Linked DNA regions of Homo sapiens. The protein of the gene in region 1 purifies or fractionates together with the protein of each later gene. This does not show direct contact. Each region holds a gene or a part of one and is shown on either strand. Other genes may lie near its edges.

Evidence for each region. The genes of interacting proteins can lie anywhere in the genome.
Region 2: the proteins of KRT32 (region 1) and SULF2 purify together in Homo sapiens (co-immunoprecipitation; one large-scale study listed by IntAct). This does not show direct contact.

The regions. Positions count from the first base shown.
Region 1 is NC_000017.11:41,465,276-41,469,023, reverse strand, and holds the start of KRT32 (keratin, type I cuticular Ha2), read left to right. Parts: upstream 1-1,637; 5' UTR 1,638-1,698; coding exon 1,699-2,166; intron 2,167-2,847; coding exon 2,848-2,930; intron 2,931-3,094; coding exon 3,095-3,251; exon of another isoform or gene 3,252-3,748.
Region 2 is NC_000020.11:47,778,869-47,782,516, forward strand, and holds part of SULF2 (extracellular sulfatase Sulf-2 isoform a precursor), read right to left. Parts: intron 787-3,648; exon of another isoform or gene 1-786. UniProt on the Homo sapiens protein: Exhibits arylsulfatase activity and highly specific endoglucosamine-6-sulfatase activity. It can remove sulfate from the C-6 position of glucosamine within specific subregions of intact heparin.

The DNA of each region.
Region 1 (3,748 bases):
TGGCCTGATGAGTCTCATCCCTTGTAGTTGGTATTGCCATCACACCTCCTTCCATCTGATGCTATAATCTTCTCTAAATAGGTAATCCAGACAAGGTACTGGAATTTGTAGTTGTTGCAGAGAATCAAATTGTGAGAGTATTTGATCTGACCCCCTCGATTGGCATGAAGAAACTGAGGTCTGGAGAGACAAAATTACTTTCCCAAGGCCAAATGGCAAGTCAGAGGCAGTATATCTACGCTCTCCTTTTCTTATGCAATGAATGAGCTGGGTGGCATTTTCCCTTTCCTGTTCTTGTACTGACATTTCTGGGAATATGTGAAACATAAGGCAAGTACTTATACCCCAAAATTATATCAAGAAGATTACTGAATAAAAAAGTGGCTATATAGCACACACATACTAAATGTGAAGCTCACAGCTTTTGCAGCCAGGACTGAAAACCACTGCTCTAGCATGTTGCCTTCTTAAGTGAATGCCCAGGGCTTCTATAGTTGGGCAAATATGCTCCCTGTCTCCTGGCTTAGCTCATTCCAGGGCTATAGAACATCCTTTCCCAAGGGAGTGGATTCACACTGCTTCCATAGTCTGAGATCCTGAAGTGAGCCTTCCCCATCTGCCACAACAGAAAGTAAAAGTAGAACCTGTTCCAACTATTCTCAGTCTGTTCAACAAACAATTATTGAGCACTTGACAATTGTGTATATGGTGCAGTGATAATTGAATGGATGGTCCAGAGGGGGTCAAGACAGAGCAGCTGCCACCTGGAGATGTTCATGATATGGACTTTTCCAAGAGGAAGAGACCAACTGGAAAGATGTACCTGATTCTTAGGCTTCTGTTTGGGTCTTTTTTTTTTTTTTTTTTTTGCCTTTTGAAGGGGTGCAGCATTCCTGGAGGTACTGCAATACCAGGTCAACATGTAGAGTGAACAGAGCAAGCTCTTATTCCATCTCCCTGCTCCCAAAATCCATTTAATATGTTGTCCTCAGATGGAGGACGTATCAGATATTAAGACGATAAGAACAGATACCACACTTGATCTTAGCCAAAAGGCTGAGAAGTGATGCTGCCTATGTCTTGAGTTCATTCTCTCCCCACTGATATTATTTTCTTCCCCTTGGCAGGAAGATGATGTCTGTTAGGAAGCCTCTGAGGTTCCTGTTCCTTTCTGCTGGATTTATGCCGCTGCCAGCATCGGAGCAGTTTCTACCACCCACACATTTCCTTGTTAAATAGCCAGGCCTCTTCCCATGGGGAATGCTTTCATTAAAAGAGGCAGCCACTGCTGCACAGACCTGCAGGCTTCTCAGGGCTAGAGCAGGCGGGGGTGCAGTGGGCAAAGCCAGTGGAGGCACAGGCTGGGTTGTGGCAGTCTCCTGGAGGGCCTGCCCTAGTAATGAGGGCCCAGGCATGCGGCTGACCCTTTGAAGATGTGTCCTGAAGCTCTCTCATGGTGATCAATGACAGGAACCCAGACTCCTGCTTTAGCCAAATGATAAGTTTGGCCTCTTTTATTGGAAACCAAATTACAAATTAATTAGCAGCTTCCTCTGGGGCTGGGTGTGAACATCAACACCACCCAATGATGAATTTCTATCATGAGCCCCCTCACTGCAAGGGCATAAAATGGCCCGGGCGGCATGGGGTCTGTAGACATCCAGGTAGCTGTGGCTGAGGAGAAAGGGCCTCTCCAACATGACATCCTCCTGCTGTGTCACCAACAACTTGCAAGCCTCTCTCAAGAGCTGCCCCCGGCCTGCCTCGGTCTGTTCCAGCGGCGTGAACTGCCGGCCTGAGCTGTGCCTGGGCTATGTCTGCCAGCCCATGGCATGCCTGCCTTCGGTCTGCCTGCCCACCACCTTCCGGCCAGCCAGCTGCCTCTCCAAAACCTATCTATCCAGTTCCTGCCAGGCAGCCAGTGGCATCTCCGGCTCCATGGGCCCCGGCAGCTGGTACAGCGAAGGGGCCTTCAATGGCAATGAGAAGGAAACCATGCAGTTCCTTAACGACCGCCTGGCCAGCTACCTGACGAGGGTGCGGCAGCTGGAGCAGGAGAATGCGGAGCTGGAGAGCAGGATCCAAGAGGCCTCTCACTCCCAGGTGCTCACCATGACTCCTGACTACCAGTCTCATTTCAGGACCATTGAGGAGCTCCAGCAGAAGGTGAGGGCAGCGGTGAGGTGAATAGGCTCTCTGGGAAGGGAACTGGACTAGCTGGCATTCCAGATTGGAATCTCGTTAGCTTATTAAGCTATGTTCAGGACAAAGAGACTTCCCTAGGGCATAGGGTTATTTTATAATTTGAGCACTCAGCCTGAGGCTTTCATGTGGAGAGATCTGGGATCTAGTCTCAGTTCTACCATTGCCTCATTGCATGACTTTGGGGGTCCCATCCCTTCCCCAGGCCTCAGTTTTCTCATCTGTAAAACAGGGATAATAATGGTCGTTATCTAATGGGGTTGTCAAAAGGATTTGATGAGATGATGCAGGTCAAGTGCTTGGAACAGCCCCTGGTCCACGGTAAGTTTTCAGTAAATGTCAAAGACCCTTCTAACTGTCACATGAGTGACTTCAGACATGAGATTCTTCCCTTCCACATTGCTTGGCACATCCAAAATGGGGAATTTGAATTTACGAAGCTTCAGGTTCTTAAAAAATACATCTCAAGTTCTCCAAGGACTAGCAATTCGCTAAATATCTCCCAGAGTTCCAGGGAAGAGGACCTTCTGCAGGGATGGCTGCAGGGCTGCTGGATCCTACCTTTGCTGCTGTCTTCTCTTCATTTGGGTTCTTCTTGCTTCGTCTCATCCTGAACTAACCCTCTCCATGTGCCTTGGCCTACAGATTCTGTGTACCAAGGCAGAGAATGCCAGGATGGTTGTGAACATTGATAATGCCAAACTGGCTGCCGATGACTTCAGGGCCAAGTGAGTTCAGTCGGGGGGCTGGAGCTGGGGAGGACCTGTCCTCATAGGCTCTGGGGCAACTTTCCATTAGTTTCACGGAGGGTTGGAAAGTGCCGGCAGTTTAAGGCCTTCCCTGAGTTCTGCATTCTGTTTCACCCTTGGTTGCTGACCCTGTCCTTGTGCAGGTACGAGGCAGAGCTGGCCATGCGGCAGCTGGTGGAGGCCGACATCAATGGCCTGCGCAGGATCCTGGATGATCTCACTCTGTGCAAGGCTGACCTGGAGGCCCAGGTTGAGTCCCTGAAGGAGGAGCTGATGTGCCTCAAAAAGAACCATGAGGAGGTGAGGCTGGAAGTCCCGCTGAAGTGGCCCCGGGAAGCAGAGGGGGAGGAACGTGGGGTATGGGGTTGGATAGGCGTGGGTTGAAATTCCCAAGCCTGCCACATGTTGTTTTAGTGACTTTGCCCAATTTATGGAATCTTCCTGAGCCTCCTCTTCTGTAAAATGGGGACAACATGATCACGCAGGGTTATTGTGAGGATTTAATGGACAGGATATGGATCATGGAAATCCCCAAGGCATGGGTATGAAACACCTGCCACTTGGTCAACTCTCAGAAGTGTAGCCCCCTTCCCTTCTGCATTTCCTGGGCTAGTGTGACTGCCAAGCACTCACTAGTGGCAACTGCATTTTTTTCTCTCGAGAGCCACACAGCAGAGGTAGAGTGGTGCAGTGGTGCCGGGGTGAGTTATGTTCCAGATCTCACGTTGAATGGCCTGTCCATCTCTGCCTGGCTCAACTCTCAGAAGCAGTCCCATCTCTTCTGAGAGGGAGTACAG
Region 2 (3,648 bases), on another chromosome or scaffold:
AACACATTCTCTCTGGATAATTGTGTCCAGTCCCACAGCTTAAAATAACATCAATATGCCGATAACTCCCAAACTTAGGTTGCCAGCCCCGACCGGCTGCAGACATCCACGTTCACCACCCACTGAGCTTTCAGACATCCAGGTGGGGTTCATCTCAAACCCAACATTTCCACGTCGGAATTCCAGATCACTCCTCCTCCCCAAAACCTTCTCTCCTATCTTCCCTATTTAGCAATCACCACGCACCAGGCTGCCTAGTCACCTTTGACTCCTTGGCAGGATACATCATGAATATTTGGGCTGAATCATTTTTCACTGTGGGGTCATCCCGTACATTGCAGGTTAAGCAGCATCCCTGGCCTCTACCCTCTAGATGCCAGTAGCAACCCTTCCCCAGTTGGGACAACCTATACTGTCTCCGGATAGTGTTAAAATGTTTTCTGGGTGTCAAAATCACCCTCGGTTGAGAATCAAAGCCCTTTCCCTCACTCTGTAATCCAATCCACTAGGAAGTCCTGTGGGCCCTACCTCCAAAATACATCTCCAATCCCCATTTCACTCCATCTCCATTGATACCACCACGGTCCAAGCCACTCTCGGGCCCTCTCTGTTGCCTAACAGTCCCGGTGATACCACTTCCATCTGCACAGCACGCCTCTCACAGGAGCCAGCAGGATCTTCTTGAAACACAAATCATATCATTCTCTGACTTAAAACCCTCCAATGGTTCTCCATTTTATTTTTTAATTTATTTTTGAGATGGAGTCTTGCTCTGTCACTCAGGCTAGAGTGCAATGGCACAATCTCAGCTCACTGCAACCTCCACCTCCTGGGTTCAAACGATTCTCCTGCTGCAGCCTCCCGAGTAACTGGGATTACAGGTGTGCGCCACCGTGCCTGGCTAATTTTTGTATTTTTAGTAGAGATGGGGTTTCACCATGTTGGCCAGGCTAGTCTTGAACTCCTGACCTCAGGTGATCCACCCGCCTTGGCCTCCCAAAGTGTTGCGATTACAGGCATAAGCCACCGCGTCCAGACAGTTATCCATTTTATTTAAAATAAAGTCTAAAATTTCTTAGCATGGCCTGTATTTCTCATCTCTGACGTGCCCTCCCCCACTTACTCCTGACCCTCTACCCTAGTTGACTTTTTTTTTTTTTTTTTTTGAGACAGAGTCTGACTCTGTTGCCCAGGCTGGAATGCAGAAGTGTGATCCCGGCTCACAGCAACCCCTGCCTCCCGGGTTCAAGTGATTCTCCTGTCTCAGCCTCCCAAATAGCTGGGACTACAGGCACGTGCCACCACACCTGGCTAATGTTTGTATTTTTAGCAGAGATGAGGTTTCACCGTGTTGGTCAGGCTGGTCTTGAACTCCTGACCTCCAGTGATCTAACTGCCTCAGCCTCCCAAAGTGCTGAGATTTCAGGCGTGAGCCACCACGCCTGGCCTACCCCACTTGACTTCTATTTGTGTTTGGGGCAGGTGTCTTGGACAGGCCCCTCCCACCGCCTCTGGGCCTTTGCACTAGCTGTTCCTTCTACCTGGCATGCTCTTCCCCCAGATCTTTCCAAGGCGGACTCCTTCCTAAAATCTAGGTCACAGTTCAAAGGTCACATCCTCACAGAGGCCTCCCTGACAGCCTGCCTAAAGTTGCCTCCCACCCCATCACATCATGCAGTCATTTTTCTTTTAAATTTTTTTTTGAGACTGAGTCTCACTTTGTTGCCCAGGCTGGAGTGCAGTAGTGCGATCTCAGCTCACTGCAACCTCCGACTCCTGGGTTCAAGCGATTCTGGTGCCTCAGCCTCCTGTGTAGCTGGAATTACAGGCAAGCACCATCACACCTGGCTAATTTTTGTATTTTTAGTAGAGAGAGGGTTTTGCCATGTTGGCCAGGCTGGTCTCAAACTCCTGACCTCAAGGGATCCTCCCACCTCGGCCTCTCAAAGTGCTGGGATTATAGGCATGAGCCAGCACGCCAGGCCTAGAGCATTTTCCCCGCCTTCTGACAGCCCCTGCATTAGGCAGGAAGACAAAGAGGCCCACGCTCCAGAGCTCTCTTCGCCAAACCCTCCTGCTGATATAGAATATACACATGACATATTGGTCATGCCCCCCAGCATCCAGGACCCTCCCTAGAAGTTTGATTCAACAGGATCTGGTCTTTGCCTTTTTAAACAAATACAGCCAGATGATTCTCATGGTGGGAGGTTAGACAAACACTGCCCCTGGCCCCCCGAAAGCACAGGATCAAGGCCAGGCCCCATCCTTCAGACAGTAAGGCAGAAAAGTCAGGCCTTTGATGCCTCCTGGCCCTGGTGGAAGGGAGAGGCATTGCCCAGGCAGCGTGTTTCCCCAGTCTCCACCTTGGCCAAAATGAAGATGGGTCCATCTGGCCAGCATTGCTCACATTAGTGGCCCATCATCGCAGGCACTGGCCATCTGCCTCTCCAGCAACCGGGCTTCCCTTTCACTGGGGACTCCCCGTGCTGTTTTATTCCAGGCTTTGGGGTCTCAGCAGTCAGCCTCCATCCAGCTCCAGGGAGAGGCCTGTGAGCCTGGCTTAAGCCAATTGTTGGCAACTCATTTCCTTAGCCAGTGACTGGTTTGGACAAAAAACAGTCCAATCAGAGGGAACCATGGGGCTCAGGTGTGCATTGCCAGATCAGAGGCTTGTTCTTTCCTTTTGGGCTTAAACCAGAGGGGATGAGACCCCTCTGCTCCATGACATCTGTCCTGACACCTAAGTTATGGTAACAGTCAATGCCTACTGAAGGCTCACCTGGGTCAGACGCCCTGCTAAGCACTTGACATTGATCATCTCATTTCATGCTTACCACAAGCAGGAGACAGGTGCTATGATCATCATCATTTGTTGGATGTGAACATCAAGGCACAGAAAGGTTAAGTAGCATGCCCCAGATCCCACTGCTGGGCAGGGAGCCAGGCAGTCTGGCTCTCCTAGCCACGGTGCCCACAGCTGCCAGGGACTGCCCGCCCCAGAGCTGGAGAGACATCAGCCTCATGGAAGGCAGAGGAGCGGTGGATAGGAATGGATTCTCATTACAAAATCTGAGCTGTGGGTCCAGCTGTGTCTGAAGCTAGAGTTAGTCACCTTAAGACTTTTGGTTATGAAAACCAGTAAGTCCACTTCTTTTCTCCTTAAGCTGGCTTGAGTTTTTTTCTTCTCTTTTTCCGTTGCTTGCAAGAGAAAGGAACCTGATTACTTTACAGTTCTTCTAGGCAAGTACCCCTAACTGATACTCCATTTGCAACTTGCACACAGCAGCTGCTCAGTAAACACCAGCAGATACGGATGGACTGCTCTCCCTTCCGGTCCATTCACTGCTGGATCTGTACCCTGACACCCAACTGTGGCCAGCCCAGCGCTTCTTCCCCTTTAGGCTCCAAGTGAGGCCTCGTTCCCTAGCAACCACCCCAATTAGGCAACCATGCCATTTATCGGGATGCCAATTAATTATAACGATCTTAATGCCCTCCCAATTAGACAGTGCCTTCAATCCGGCTGGGCCAGGGCTGTCTGTAGATCTCCACCAAGGCCCATTCCAAGGAGGCCCAGAGAAAGCAGGTTTCAGGGAGGGCCCCCTCACCTGCAGATCAGCATTGAGAGAGGCCCCCATCTTCCAC